4 linked regions of the Homo sapiens genome follow. The protein of the gene in region 1 purifies or fractionates together with the protein of each later gene. This does not show direct contact. Each region holds a gene or a part of one and is shown in the gene's direction. Other genes may lie near its edges.

Evidence for each region. Proteins that work in one complex are often made in the same cells at the same time.
Region 2: the proteins of TOR3A (region 1) and SCAP purify together in Homo sapiens (co-immunoprecipitation; one large-scale study listed by IntAct). This does not show direct contact.
Region 3: the proteins of TOR3A (region 1) and TLCD3A purify together in Homo sapiens (affinity purification with mass spectrometry; one large-scale study listed by BioGRID and IntAct). This does not show direct contact.
Region 4: the proteins of TOR3A (region 1) and TMTC3 purify together in Homo sapiens (co-immunoprecipitation; one large-scale study listed by IntAct). This does not show direct contact.

The regions. Positions count from the first base shown.
Region 1 is NC_000001.11:179,092,013-179,094,346, forward strand, and holds part of TOR3A (torsin-3A precursor), read left to right. Parts: intron 1-2,080; coding exon 2,081-2,205; intron 2,206-2,334.
Region 2 is NC_000003.12:47,420,339-47,423,959, reverse strand, and holds part of SCAP (sterol regulatory element-binding protein cleavage-activating protein), read left to right. Parts: coding exon 1-27; intron 28-1,423; coding exon 1,424-1,518; intron 1,519-2,930; coding exon 2,931-3,029; intron 3,030-3,187; coding exon 3,188-3,406; intron 3,407-3,621. UniProt on the Homo sapiens protein: Escort protein required for cholesterol as well as lipid homeostasis.
Region 3 is NC_000017.11:735,578-739,198, forward strand, and holds part of TLCD3A (TLC domain-containing protein 3A), read left to right. Parts: intron 1-2,268; coding exon 2,269-2,470; intron 2,471-3,621.
Region 4 is NC_000012.12:88,169,789-88,173,409, forward strand, and holds part of TMTC3 (protein O-mannosyl-transferase TMTC3), read left to right. Parts: intron 1-2,808; coding exon 2,809-2,957; intron 2,958-3,177; exon of another isoform or gene 3,178-3,301; intron 3,302-3,621. UniProt on the Homo sapiens protein: Transfers mannosyl residues to the hydroxyl group of serine or threonine residues.

The DNA.
Region 1 (2,334 bases):
TCCTGCCGGGCTCCTCCAGCTGGGAGCTCTCAGCCCCTGGTAAATTCTGGCAGTGAAAGACACATTAGCACCTCCCCCTACAATGAGGCACCTAGCTAGACAACTTGGCTGTCCGGGCTTAACCTGCGTGGCAGGGAAGGACGCCTGCCCAGCCTTAGCCTCTACGCAATGGTGGAGGCAGGGAGGGAGAGAACCACACAGCTCCCCTCATTTCCCAGCAGCCCCCATGGAGCCTAGTCAACAGGGTGTGGTCACAGGCTAAATGAGCAAAGATGTGAGCTAATATACTGGTAGGTGTCATGGGGGCTTTCAGAGCTGGGTAAGGAGGGAAAGAGATGGAGATACTGGTTCCCCACTCCTTAACCTGCCACCTGCCTTCCCTGTCCTTTACCCTCCCTCATTCTGCTGGACCTGAGGAAAATGCAAGGGAGGCTAGGCCTAGTGGCTCATGCCTGTCATCCCAACACTTTGGGAGACTGAGGTGGGAGAATCACTTGAGCCTAGGAGTTTGAGACCAGCCTAGGGAACATAGTGAGACCTCGTCTCTACAAAAAAATTTTAAAAATAGGGCCGGGCACACCTGTCATCCTAGCACTTTGGGAGGCGGGCAGATCAGCTGAGGTCAGGAGTTTGAGACCAGCCTGGCCAACATGGTGAAACCCTGTCTCTACTAAAAAAATTAGCTGGGCATTGTGGCATGTGCCTGTAATCCCAGCTACTTGGGAGGCTGAGGCAGGAGAATCTCTTGAATCCGGGAGGCAGAGGCTGCTGTGAGCTGAGATCACGCCACTGCACTCCAGCCTGGGCAACAAGAGTGAAACTCTGTCTCAAGAAAAAAAAAAATAGCTGGGTAGGGTGGCATGTACCTGCAGTCTCAGCTACTTAGGAGGCTGAGGTGAGAGGATCAGCTGAGCCTGGGGAGGTGGAGGCTGCAGTGAGCCAAAATCACGCCACTGTACTCCAATCTGGGTGACAGAATGAGACTGTCTCCAAAAAGAGAGAAAGCACGGGGAAGTGCAAGTGCATTGATGTGGAGCTGGGCAAGGACTTGGTTTAAGGAGCTGGTGGAGCTGGCTGAGGCTGCAGCCCAGGGAGGGGAGGAGAGTGCAGTGAGGTGGGGGAGAAGTATGCCTGGGCCGTGGAGGGCGGAGGAAGGCCAAGTCTCCACTACCTCTGTCCCAGCTTCCCTGCTGGTGGCTCTACGGTTGCATCTTCTCTCCTTATCCCCTTTCTCCCTCCTATCTCTAACCCAAATCACTTTCTGTGCTTCAGACCCGTAATTCCAGTTGCCCAGTGATATCACAACCTGAGAGAGATCACAGGCAAGCAAAAAACACTCAAACGTGTGTAAAACCAAACTTTCATCTCCACCTTTCCGTGTTCCACCTCTGTTAAGGGGGACAGCAAGCAGCTTGAGGCTAACGCTTGTTCTTTGATGACCTCCTTTCACTTCTCACATCCATCAGTTACAGGGTTTTTCAATTGTGCCTCCATAACTAATTCTTAAATCCTCCTTTCCATCCCTTCTCCATGATCCATAAGCTCAAGTCCATGCAAATGGCAGACAAAGCCCTCCTCACCTTAGCCAGCCTTTCATGCCTGTGCTCCTCTGGCGCACCCAGGCCTAGACACTTCCCTTCCTTGCCAAGTGTCTGATGATCACTACTTGGTCTTTATTTGCTCAGAAGCCTCATCCTCCCTCTGAAGCCTTCTCCTTAGAACTCAGTCACTCCTCCATTAGCGCTTGCCACACTGTCCTGGAACCGAATACACGGATGCCCCTCAGACCACACAGAAGAACCATATCTTACCATCTTTTCATGCTCCCTGCACTTAGCACAGTCTCAGTAAGTGTGTGTCAAGAGGGAACAAGAGAGAATGGGTGGCAAAACTGGACAGTGTCTTTTCTGTGCAGACCTTTGGGTTGTGAGGTTGTGACAAGGTCTCCTGGAAGAGAGAGAAGGTCCACGCCCCTCAGCCTCTATTCTTCCAGGCACTAATGCATTGGTTTCAGCGGTGAGATAACATATATGGAAGCTAAATATAAACAAATGGGTTAACAAGCTCTTGTCTCTTTCAGTAATCTCAGGGGCGATATAATCAATGAGGTGGTCCTAAAGTTGCTCAAGGCTGGATGGTCCCGGGAAGAAATTACGATGGAACACCTGGAGCCCCACCTCCAGGCGGAGATTGTGGAGACCATAGGTGAGTAACTGACTCAATATGCCTCTGGTGAGAGCCACAGCTGGTGATAATTAATGTGTTTGTTGGAATGTGTGTTTATGAAGCAGACAGGGTACTTGGGAACACAGAGGGCAGACTATAATCATCTCA
Region 2 (3,621 bases), on another chromosome or scaffold:
TGGAGGTGAAGCTGCGGATCGCCCAAGGTAACGCAGTGGGAGAGTTGGGCAGAGGGCTGCAGGAGGGGCTGGAATGGGGCCTGTTCCTCTTGCTGTTAACGCTCTGTGAGCAAACAGAGCCCTTGAAATGTCCCTTGCTCTTGCCTCCGGCATAATATGCAGTGGGCCACTGGGCCCTGGCAGCTCTTGAGTGTGTGCCCTGGGGAGCCATGGGGCCATTGGACTGTACTTCGTCCTGGTTCATGTGTCAGTAAGAAAGTAAACCAGGCTGGGTGCCATGGCTCACACCTGTAATCCCAGCACTTTGGGAGGCTGAGGCAGGTGGATCACTTGAGCCCAGGAGTTCAAGACCAGCCTGGGCAACATGGTGAAACCCCATGTCTACAAAAGATAGAAAAATTAGCAGGGCATATTGGCATGCACCTGTGGTCCCACCTACTCAAGAGGCTGAGGTGGGAGGATTGCTTGAGCCTGGGAGGTCAAAGCTGCAGTGAGCCGTGATCACACCACTGCACTTCAGTGTGGGTGGGGCTTGTGTTTGGTGGTGGCTTTCTGTCTGGGGAGTTTAGCGCCTAGTATTTTCTCTTACTGCCTCACTCCAGCACACTAGGCCCAAGCCCCGGGGGCTGGCCATTTCAGAGACGCTGCCTTCACGGCTGCCAGAAAAGCTCCCTCTGGCCCTGCTGGTAGAAACTGGGGATCTGGGGTTCTAGGGAAAATGAGAAAAGGGAGAGCCTGGCCTTGGAGGCCTGGTCACTTGAGCCTCTTCTTCCTCGTCACCCCATGTCTGTGAGGAATGGGGCTGTAGGCAGCCGTCCATTCATCCAGACCTCTGTGAGCCTCTGTGATAAGCCAGGCCCTGTGCTGGATATGGAGTTAGGAAGAGATGGGGCGAAATTGTCCTTACCCAGTAAGAGCACAGAGCCTTAGACATGCGACAGTGTGATAGCGTGGGATCAGGGCTCACTACAGGAAGGGGCTTGAGGAAGAACGCAGCCAGGTCCTCTACCCGCCGAGTGCTTCTGCCATGTGGTTGATGGGCACACTGTCATGCTGGCCCGTGCAGACCAGACAAGAACCACATGCGGAGGTTGGATGTGGTTGTTGTGGGTGGCACTTGGCTTTCCTTGTGGATTTTCTCATCTCCACACTCTGCTTCTTCCCTCTTTTGATGATTATAGCTCTCCTCTGCACCCTCCAGGCTGTGAACACCCGTTCCCCGTAGCAGCTGTGTGGTGGTGATGGCCCCTTAAAGTCTGGGCATTAGCAGGACCCTGAGGGTTGGGGTGCTTTGGTGGAATGGCTCCTTCAAAGGGCTGGGGGGCCTTGCCATGCCTCTGCCACTCCGAGGCCCATGAGGTTGTGTGAGTCATGTCGCAGAGTGGCCATGTGTTGCCCTGTGCCCTGTTGCTGCCCTCTGCAGGCCTAAGCAGCGAGAGCTGGTCCATCATGAAGAACATGGCCACGGAGCTGGGCATCATCCTCATCGGCTACTTCACCCTAGTGCCCGCCATCCAGGTAAGGCCCCAAGGCCTGCCACCTGGATGAGCATGGAAGCAACTGCTGTGCTCCCCAGCTGTGCAGCCATGGGCAGGGTGCTCCCCTCTTCAGCACAGGCATCCTTGCTTCTGAGGTGGGACCTCTTTGCCTGGCAAGCAGATCACTACAGCACCCAGATGGCCCCTGGCATGCCTGGCTCAGAAGTGCTCAGCAAACCCTGGCTGGGTTCCCAGATTGAGCACCTAGCCAGGCAGACTCTGCCCTTGACCCTGTCTTCCTACCCCTCCCTGCCTGCTTCCCTTTCAGCCAAGTGGCAGGAGGAGGCTGCAAGGGCATGGCAGGAGCTGGGGACTGGCTGTGCAGTTTGTCACACCTGTTTCCCATTTTTGAGGGAGAAGCACCGTGGGGTTCCTAGACCCTTCCTCCGGTCTCCTCCCTTGGCCCTGGCCTGTGCCGCAGTCGCCAGACGCATGGCCTTGCCTGGCCTGACCAGTGGGAGGGCCACCACCCATTGCCCAGAGTGACCCTGCTCTTGGCAAAGTGCCCTCACTCAGCTGTGGGCTGTGAGCAGAGGTGGAGGTGGCCCTGCACTGAGCTGGAACCCCAGACTGATGCCAGCCATTCCAGAAGGAGTTGCAGGAAGGGGAGGATGCCATCTTTTCTCGCCCGTCTTTCCCCCAGGGCTGGCAGGCCAGCTGAGGGATGGGGGTGAGCAGAGAACAGATGGGCTGTGGGCTGCTTCTCCTGGAAAAACAGTAGTATCTGCAGGATAGGGTACAGTCTTGGGACGTTAGAGCTGAGACAACCACTGTGCCACTATCTGCACTCCATGGTCTTACCCCAGATCGGAGTAGCACTGTGGTGATGTGCTAGAGGTCTCAACACCGACATCTCAGAAAATTTTGTCTGCTGACAGAGCTTGGGGAGCAGAGAGCTCACCCTTTTTCAGTTTTAGAGAATTAATCCCTCTCTCTCTCTCTTCATTGTTCCGGGGCAGTTGCTGGCTGGGAACCTTTCTGAGAGCCCCTGAATCAGGCCTGGGCTCTAGCTGGGTTGGTGATGCATGAGCAGGGCGGGGGCTCAGTGGGGAAGGACTTTTTGGGGAGCAGGCTGGTGGGGCTTAGAGGTTTCCGGGTTGGATCAGGCCTTCAGTCCCCTCTAGAGGGACCGGAAGATTCAGGGAAGGTACTTCCCCTTCCCTTTCAGCCCTTTCTGAAGAAAGTGTGAGGGTTTCTTCTGCCCCCTGGTGGAGACGGGGTGAGCTGCTGCTGGTATGTGAGCTGAGGACCAACCAGCATCTCTCATCTCTGCTGTGCCCTGCCTGCTGCTGCCCTGCCGGTTATGAGGTGGCTGCAGTCCGGGTACTGCTCCTCTTGGGCTGGGACAGTGAGGTCACGGCACCCCCCCATCCCCATGTGCTCTGATTCCAGGAGTTCTGTCTCTTTGCTGTCGTGGGGCTGGTGTCTGACTTCTTCCTTCAGATGCTGTTTTTCACCACTGTCCTGTCCATTGACATTCGCCGGATGGAGGTAGGAGTGGGCTGAGCCCTGCCCTGCCCGCCTCCTCAGCCCTGGCTGTACTGAGGGAGTCCTGGGTGAGAAGGGTGTAGACCTCGGGCAGGACAGCGGTCCTGTGCGAGCAGCCTCTGGATGGTGGACTCAGGCCCTGACCACTGTGCCCCCAACAGCTAGCAGACCTGAACAAGCGACTGCCCCCTGAGGCCTGCCTGCCCTCAGCCAAGCCAGTGGGACAGCCAACGCGCTACGAGCGGCAGCTGGCTGTGAGGCCGTCCACACCCCACACCATCACGTTGCAGCCGTCTTCCTTCCGAAACCTGCGGCTCCCCAAGAGGCTGCGTGTTGTCTACTTCCTGGCCCGCACCCGCCTGGCACAGCGCCTCATCATGGTACCTGCCACCCCTGCCCTGCCCTGCCCTCTTCTGGAGGGCCGGTGCTCCAGGCCCCTTGTGGTGCTGCACTTGGCCTTAGAGTGGCAAAGGGTATTCCTCAGGCCCTGGTGGCCCCTGGAAGCCTGGCTCTGGGGAGTTGCCCGTTGTGTCCTCCCTGCCCAGACCCTAGTGGCTTCTGAGGAGATAAGCCTGTGGGAGAAGCAGCTCCAGGG
Region 3 (3,621 bases), on another chromosome or scaffold:
CTGTTTATAGGTATTTTACTTGAAATTGCTTGAAGAAAGCACCTGAGACCATAGATGGGCATTGGAATAAGTATGGCATCTTTTTGGCCAAAAGAAACCTAGCTAGGTCGGGTGCGGTGGCTCCTGCCTGTAATCCCAACACTTTGGGAGGCCGAGGTGGGCGGATCACTTGAGGTCAGGAGCTTGAGACCAGTCTGGCCAACATGGTGAAACCCCCATCGCTACTTAAAAAGAAAAAAAAAAAGAAAATAGCCGGACGTGGCGGCAGGTACCTGTAATCCCAGCTACTCGGGAGGCTGCGGCAGGAGAATCGTTTGAACCCACGAGTCAGAGGTTGCAGTGAGCTGAGATCGCGCCACTACATCCAGCCTGGGCGACAGAGCAAGATTTTGTCTCAAAAACCAAAACCAAAAAAAAAAAAAAAAAAAAGGAACCTGGCTAATGAATTCACCTACAAGTGTGTTATACTTGCCATTACTTGCTTGCCTTATTTGTTTATTCATTATTTACGCCGTGGTAAGTGTGGAGTTGCTCAAGAGCACAAATTCAGATGGCGCCTCCGTAGACTGTATTTCCAGTGTTGCAGTTCAGCGGACTGGCTGCGTCCGAAATCAGAGACAAAGTTAATACAGATTTCAGGGCCCTCGGCTTACAATTTAGAATCTCTGGGGACTGGAGCGCTTAACAAGCACTGCAGGTGATTCTGATGTTCAGGTAGTTTGAGAACCATAAAACGAAATGGTTTTCTACCTAATACGTGGATGCGCATCAAACGTTTGCTGACCATGTGAATGGAATCCTCAAATAGTACATGATTTCAATTTAGATGTTTCTTCACAGAAAACATCTGTGGAATGCTTATCACTGGGAACCACATTGTATGAATTGTAGAGGCTTCCCTTCTAATCTGCTCTAGGACGGTGATCAACTATGATTTCCATTCAGCAAATACTGATTCAGCCCCTTTGGATAAGTAAATGGGAAAACTGTCTTTTGACCTAGCCTCTCTCCTGGTACCTAACCGCTGTAATGTGGCCCTTGAGCTCCAGGCTCATTTCCAGACCTGCTTTTTTTTGTTGTGTTTTGTGTGTTTTTTGAGACGGAGTCTCACTCTTTTGCCCAGGCTGGAGTGCAGTGGCGCGATCTCGGCTCACTGCAACCTCTGCCTCCCAGATTCAATCGATTCTCCTGCCTCAGCCTCCCAAGTAGCTGGGAGTACAGGTGCACACCACCATGCCCAGCTAATTTTTGTATTTTTAGTAGAAACGGGGTTTCACAATGTTGATAAGGCGAGTATCGAACTGCTGACCTTGTGATTCACCTGCCTTGGCCTCCCAAAGTGCTGGGATTACAGGTGTGAGCCACCACGCCCAGCCTCCAGACCTGTTTTTCTTAATGGAATTGAGATTATCTCTAGAATTGCTTTTTGGGTTTTTTTGTTTTTGTTTTTTTTAGATGGAATCTCACTCTGTCGCCCAGGCTGGAGTGCAGTGGCGCAATATCGGCTCACTGCAACCTCCGCCTCCCGGGTTCAAGTGATTCTCCTGCCTCAGCCTCCCAAGTAGCTGGGACTACAGGTGTGCGCCACCACATCTGACTAATTTTTGTATTTTTAGTAGAGACGGGGTTTCGCCATGTTGGCCAGGCTGATCTTGAACTCCTGACCTCAAGTGATCCACCCGCCTCAGCCTCCCAAAGTGCTGAGATTACAGGTGTGAGCCACCGAACCCGGCCAGCTCTAGAATTGTAAAGAAAATGGCCAGGGTTGCCTCCCAGAAACTCCATAGAGTGGGGTTGCATGCAGACAAGAGAAAACTCACAGGTTCCAGGATTTAAGTTAGTAAAACCCCCAACTGTTGAGCAGCTAAGGAGTTAAACTAGAAATGTTGGATTTGTGATTTGGGACACTTTCCAAACCAGCTTCTTGGTGGGGCCGTTGAATCATTTGTATATCTATCTATATCAAAATCAGTTTTATCACAAAATGCCAGAACATCTACTACAAATTAGTAGCTAAGTCAGGCAAGTAGTGACAGCAAGCTGCTTCAACAGGCAGGGCTGAGTGAATGCCTGCTTTTTGCCTTTGACACTCACGAATTGGCCCTGAAACTGAGAGCAAGTGGTCTACTCTCCCTGTTTATCAGTTTCAACATCTTTATTGTAAAGTATTTGGAATAATAATAGCTGATCAAGCACCAAGCTTGGCTGTGAGCCTTCATAATGGATATCCACAATGATTTCACGGGCCATTCATATGCTTTCTTTCAGGCACTGGCTTGCCCGGGAATATGTGTGGTTTCTGATTCCATACATGATCTATGACTCGTACGCCATGTACCTCTGTGAATGGTGCCGAACCAGAGACCAGAACCGTGCGCCCTCCCTCACTCTTCGAAACTTCCTAAGTCGAAACCGCCTCATGATCACACATCATGCGGTCATTCTCTTTGTCCTTGTGCCAGTCGCACAGGTATGGCCTTCCAGGACAGCAGACCAGCAGCTGGGTTGAGCTGGGTGTCTTTTTTTTTTTTTTTTTCTGAGACAGTCTCACTCTGCCGCCCCAGCTGGAGTGCAGTGGTGTGATCTCAGCTCACTGCAACCTCCGCCTCCCGGGTTCAAGCGATTCTCCTGCCTCAGCCTCCTGAGTAGCTGGGATTGCAGGTGCCCACCACCACGCCCGGCTAATGTTTGTATTTTTAGTAGAGATGGGGTTTTGCCATGTTGGCCAGGCTGATTTCAAACTCCTGAACTCAAGTGATCCGCCCGCCTCGGCCTCCCAAAGTTCTGGGATTACAGGCATGAGCCACTGCGCCCGGCCTGAGCTGGATGTCTTGACCGTTACTTAGGAGTCGGGATTGCCCCTCTTTTCTTTGCCACTCATAGGCACCCATTCTCCTTGTGCCTGCTGCTTCAGAGCCACCTCCCCCAGGTGAATAGTGGAGGAACACCATTACACATGAAACGTTCATGATCCTCCTTACCAACATCAACATCAACATACTTTTTCTTTTTTGAGACAGGGTTTCACTCTGTCACCCCGGGTGGAGTGCAGTTGTTGGATCACAGCTCACTGTAGCCTCAAACTACTGGCCTCAAGTGATCCTCCTGCCTCTGCTTCCCAGGAAGCTGGGAACACAGGCACACACTACAACGTCCAGCTAATTCCTGTAATTTTTGTAGAGTTTCTCCATGTTGCCCAGGCTGGTCTCAAACTCTTGGACTCAAGTGATCCTCCTGCCTAGGCCTCCCAAAGTGCTGGGATTACAGGCGCGAGCCACTGCACCCGGCCCCAACATTCTTTTTAACAAACCCCCAGCGCTCTGTGATTCCCTAGCGTTTGTCAGAGGTTCTATCCTTAGTTCAATACAAGATAAAAACAATATAAAATACAAATATAATACAAAGCAACATAACAGTGCCAGAGAGCACTGTGTGGATTATTCTTAGGTCACAAAACACAGATTCTCAAAGCAAATAGCCTCCTACTTTCTCCCCAGATCCATTTCCCCATAAAAGCCCACCCAACAAAGAAAAGCAATGGGAAAGCTGAGGGGAAATTCCTCACTCTTGAGTGCCTGGCCAGGGGAAGGCATGCGTTTTTTTTTTTAATTATTCATTTAT
Region 4 (3,621 bases), on another chromosome or scaffold:
ATTAGCCAGGCATGGTAGTGCATACCTGTAGTCCTAGGTGTTTGGGAGGCTGAGGCAGGAGGATTGCTTGAGCCCAAGAGTTCAAGAATGCAGTAGACTATGATCATGCCACTATACTCTATCCTGGATGACAGACAAGACCCTGTCAGAAAAAAAAAAAAAGGAAGAAGAAAAAAAGAAAGAAAGACTCTGGAGGTGACTGAGTGGTTTGCCGTATGTAGGAAATGAGAAGTAAAGCAGATTTGTCTCGAACTCTTTGCTCTTTCTACTAATATCCTAACATTTAAGGACAGTTTATGCTACTGGAAGAAGGAAATTACAAGAGAGTGATAGTTAACTAGGTTGGCATACATTATTAGAGAGCATATTAGGACCTGTGAATAAGTTAATCATTAGAGACATTTCTTATCCCAGAACCTATAGATTTTTCCTGAGAGATTTTTTTTGTTTTGTATAGTTTATGCATCAGTCTACAATACACTTTTGAGTGAATTTAACACTTAATTCCCTCAAGTGAAATTGCCTTGGGGCGGCCATGAATTAATAGGTATAATTTTTTTTTCAATGAACTACATACATATTCAGGAACTTTTCTTTATCTGTTTCACATTTTTTGCTGATTATTTTTGTCAAGCATCTCTGGGAAATGGAAAGTGAATTCTATGCACTCTTAGTTATTCTTACCTTTTTGATTTAAAAAAACTGAAGTGTCAGACCTATAAATTGGTATGATGGTGACCAGTTTGATGGTAGTGATTTTCCTCAGATTCAGTGTTGCCTTATTACAAATCATTAATGTGTGAACATTTGTGGAGAGTATTCTTTTCAATGTATACACCTCTATATTTCACAAATTAAGTCAAATAGAAAAAAAGGACATTCTTTCACCTTAGCCCATTAGAAGAGTCTCAAACTTGTGAAGCTAAAGGTTTAACTTGTTTATTCAATTAAGTACTGTAAAACAAATCGGGGTAACAAAATATGGAAGCAGATGTCCATAGAAACAGATTTCCTAATAACGACCAAACTTATTTCCTTCACAAGCTATTTATGTGCTAGTTTTTTATGGGTGTATAATGTGGAAACCACATGTCATCCCATTTTCAAAATGGTAAGAAATCTAAACATTTTTATGATGTTTCATTTCAATGTTCAGTGTTATATTAATAATTTTAGAAATTCTTGTAGAATGAAAGACTGTTGATTTAAAGGGGGGCAGTTTTATTTTTATGCATACACTAAGCTTCTAGTTAAATACATTTAACCTTTCAGGATGTTATGTGAAGTAATGCTAAGGTACAGTAGTCTGCTATCTTGTCTGAACGACACCTGATTTCATTCCCTCAGTTTCCAATATCATGTGGTTTCTTAAAGTAGTAAAGTTGTAAAAACTGACATGTTTAGCTTTTTTTTAATCAGCATTTGTGGTTTTGTTTTGTTGAAAAACCTATTAGCATATTTCATTATCATCTTATTTTTACCACACGCACATAAGTTAGATGTGTAAAATTTTTATTTATTTAATTTGTATTCCTCCTAACTGAAGTTTTATGCCTTTTGACCAACCTCTCCCCAACCTTCTCCCTCCAACCCTGGTGACCACCATGTACTGTACTTCTGTGAGTTCAACTTTTACAAATTCTACATACAAGTGAGATCATGCGTTGTTTGTCTTTCTGTGGCTGGCTTATTTCTCTTAACATGGTGTCCTCCGGGTTTATCCATGTCAGAAATGACAGGATTTCCTTCTGTTTTAAGGCTAAATAGTATTCTAAAGTGTATATGTACCACATTTTTTTCATCCAGTAATCTGTTGATGGATACTTAGGTTGTTCCCATATCTTGGCTATTGTAAATTGAATAATGCTGCAATGAACAGGGGAGGTCAGATCTCTCTTCAACATACTGACTTCATTTCCTTTGGATCTATACCCAGTAGTGAGGATGCTGGGTCACATGGTAGTTCTATTTTTAATTTTTTGAGAAGCCTTCCTACTGTTTGCTTAATGGCAATGCTAATTTACATCCCACCAACAGTGTGCAAGTGTTTCCTTTACGTTCTTGCCAACATTTGTTATCTTTTGACTTTTTGATAATAGCCATTCTTACAGGTGTGCGATGACATCTCATTGTGGTTTTAATTTTCACTTCCTTAATGATAGTGATGTTGAACATTTATATACTTGATGGCCATTGGCATGTTGTCTTCTGAGGAATATCTATTTAGCTACTTTGCCCATTTTTTAAATTGGGTTGTTTTCTTATGATTGTTTGAGTGTGTTATTTTAGATAGAATTTCAAAAAGTACTTCCACTATTTAACTGGATGAACCTTTATTGTTTAATTTTTGCTTAAAGATGTGAATATTTACATTTATTAAAGTTTTTATATTTTACTATGCAAGCATATTCTTTACAGAAAACCAGTGAGATATAGCTAATTATGCTTCTCAAATTTAAAATGCTGTAATGGTTTAGATTTTAATTTCAAGGAGTAATCACTCCCAAACACACCTAGAAATCTTGTTTTCAAAGTTCATAGATATCCTCTAATTTTAACTTTTAGAATTCAAGATTTCCATTTCACCTTGCTTACGTACATCCTGATGTTTGTTAATGTCTAAGTTGCCTTCTTTATGTTTAAATTAATATTCTTCACAGTATTATTAAAAATAGTTTAGCAGTACACTATCCAGGTTAAATGATAAAATATTTGGATTCAAGTATCAGATGCCCATATATTTCTTAATTTATTATAAATTATTTTAAATTTATTATAAATTATTAAATCTTCTTTTTTTTTTTGTAGGCGCTTTGTTTAATGGCATTACCATTTATTCCTGCATCGAACCTTTTTTTTCCAGTTGGATTTGTTGTTGCCGAGCGAGTATTATATGTTCCCAGCATGGGGTTCTGTATTTTGGTAGCCCATGGATGGCAGAAAATATCAACAAAAAGGTGAATTTAAATGTCAGTTCATGTAATGCTTACTATGGAATTAAGTGTGACACATTTTAAAATTTAAATATTTAGTTCAGTTTTCTAAGTCATGCTTTTGTATCTTTTGGTTTTTCATCTCCATAGTCTCCTCATTTGTCTTGTAAGTCAAGTTAGGAAAGCTCCATGGCACCTACTTATTCTGTGTTCTTCCCTATATTTATGTAATTTGATTTTACAGCCTGAGACAGAACAAACTTTGAGTCAGATCCAAATGAAAACAAGGATGTTACTGAGAATAAAGTCTCAAATGACCATTGCCACTTCCATATTCAGTGAACTAAGATAATAGTCATCCTACTTAAGTGAGTCATATTGAGTTAATATATATAAAATGCATATAGTAAGCAATCTGTAATTTCTTGCTATCATCACTATCTTCATTATAATCTTTGTATCCTAGTTGCCTCAAACTAACAGTTAAGGAACAGCATAGTCACACTGTATATATGCTTAGGAACTATAATTGTTATAGGTATTATCTCATTGTATACTTATGCTGTGGCACTAAAATTATCAAATCAAGCAAATTGTTAAAGGTCAAGTAATACTAATGTAATAATATTGAGTTTGCAACTTGAAAAAGAAATAGTCACTTCTTTCACTTTCCTATTTTCCAGTCATC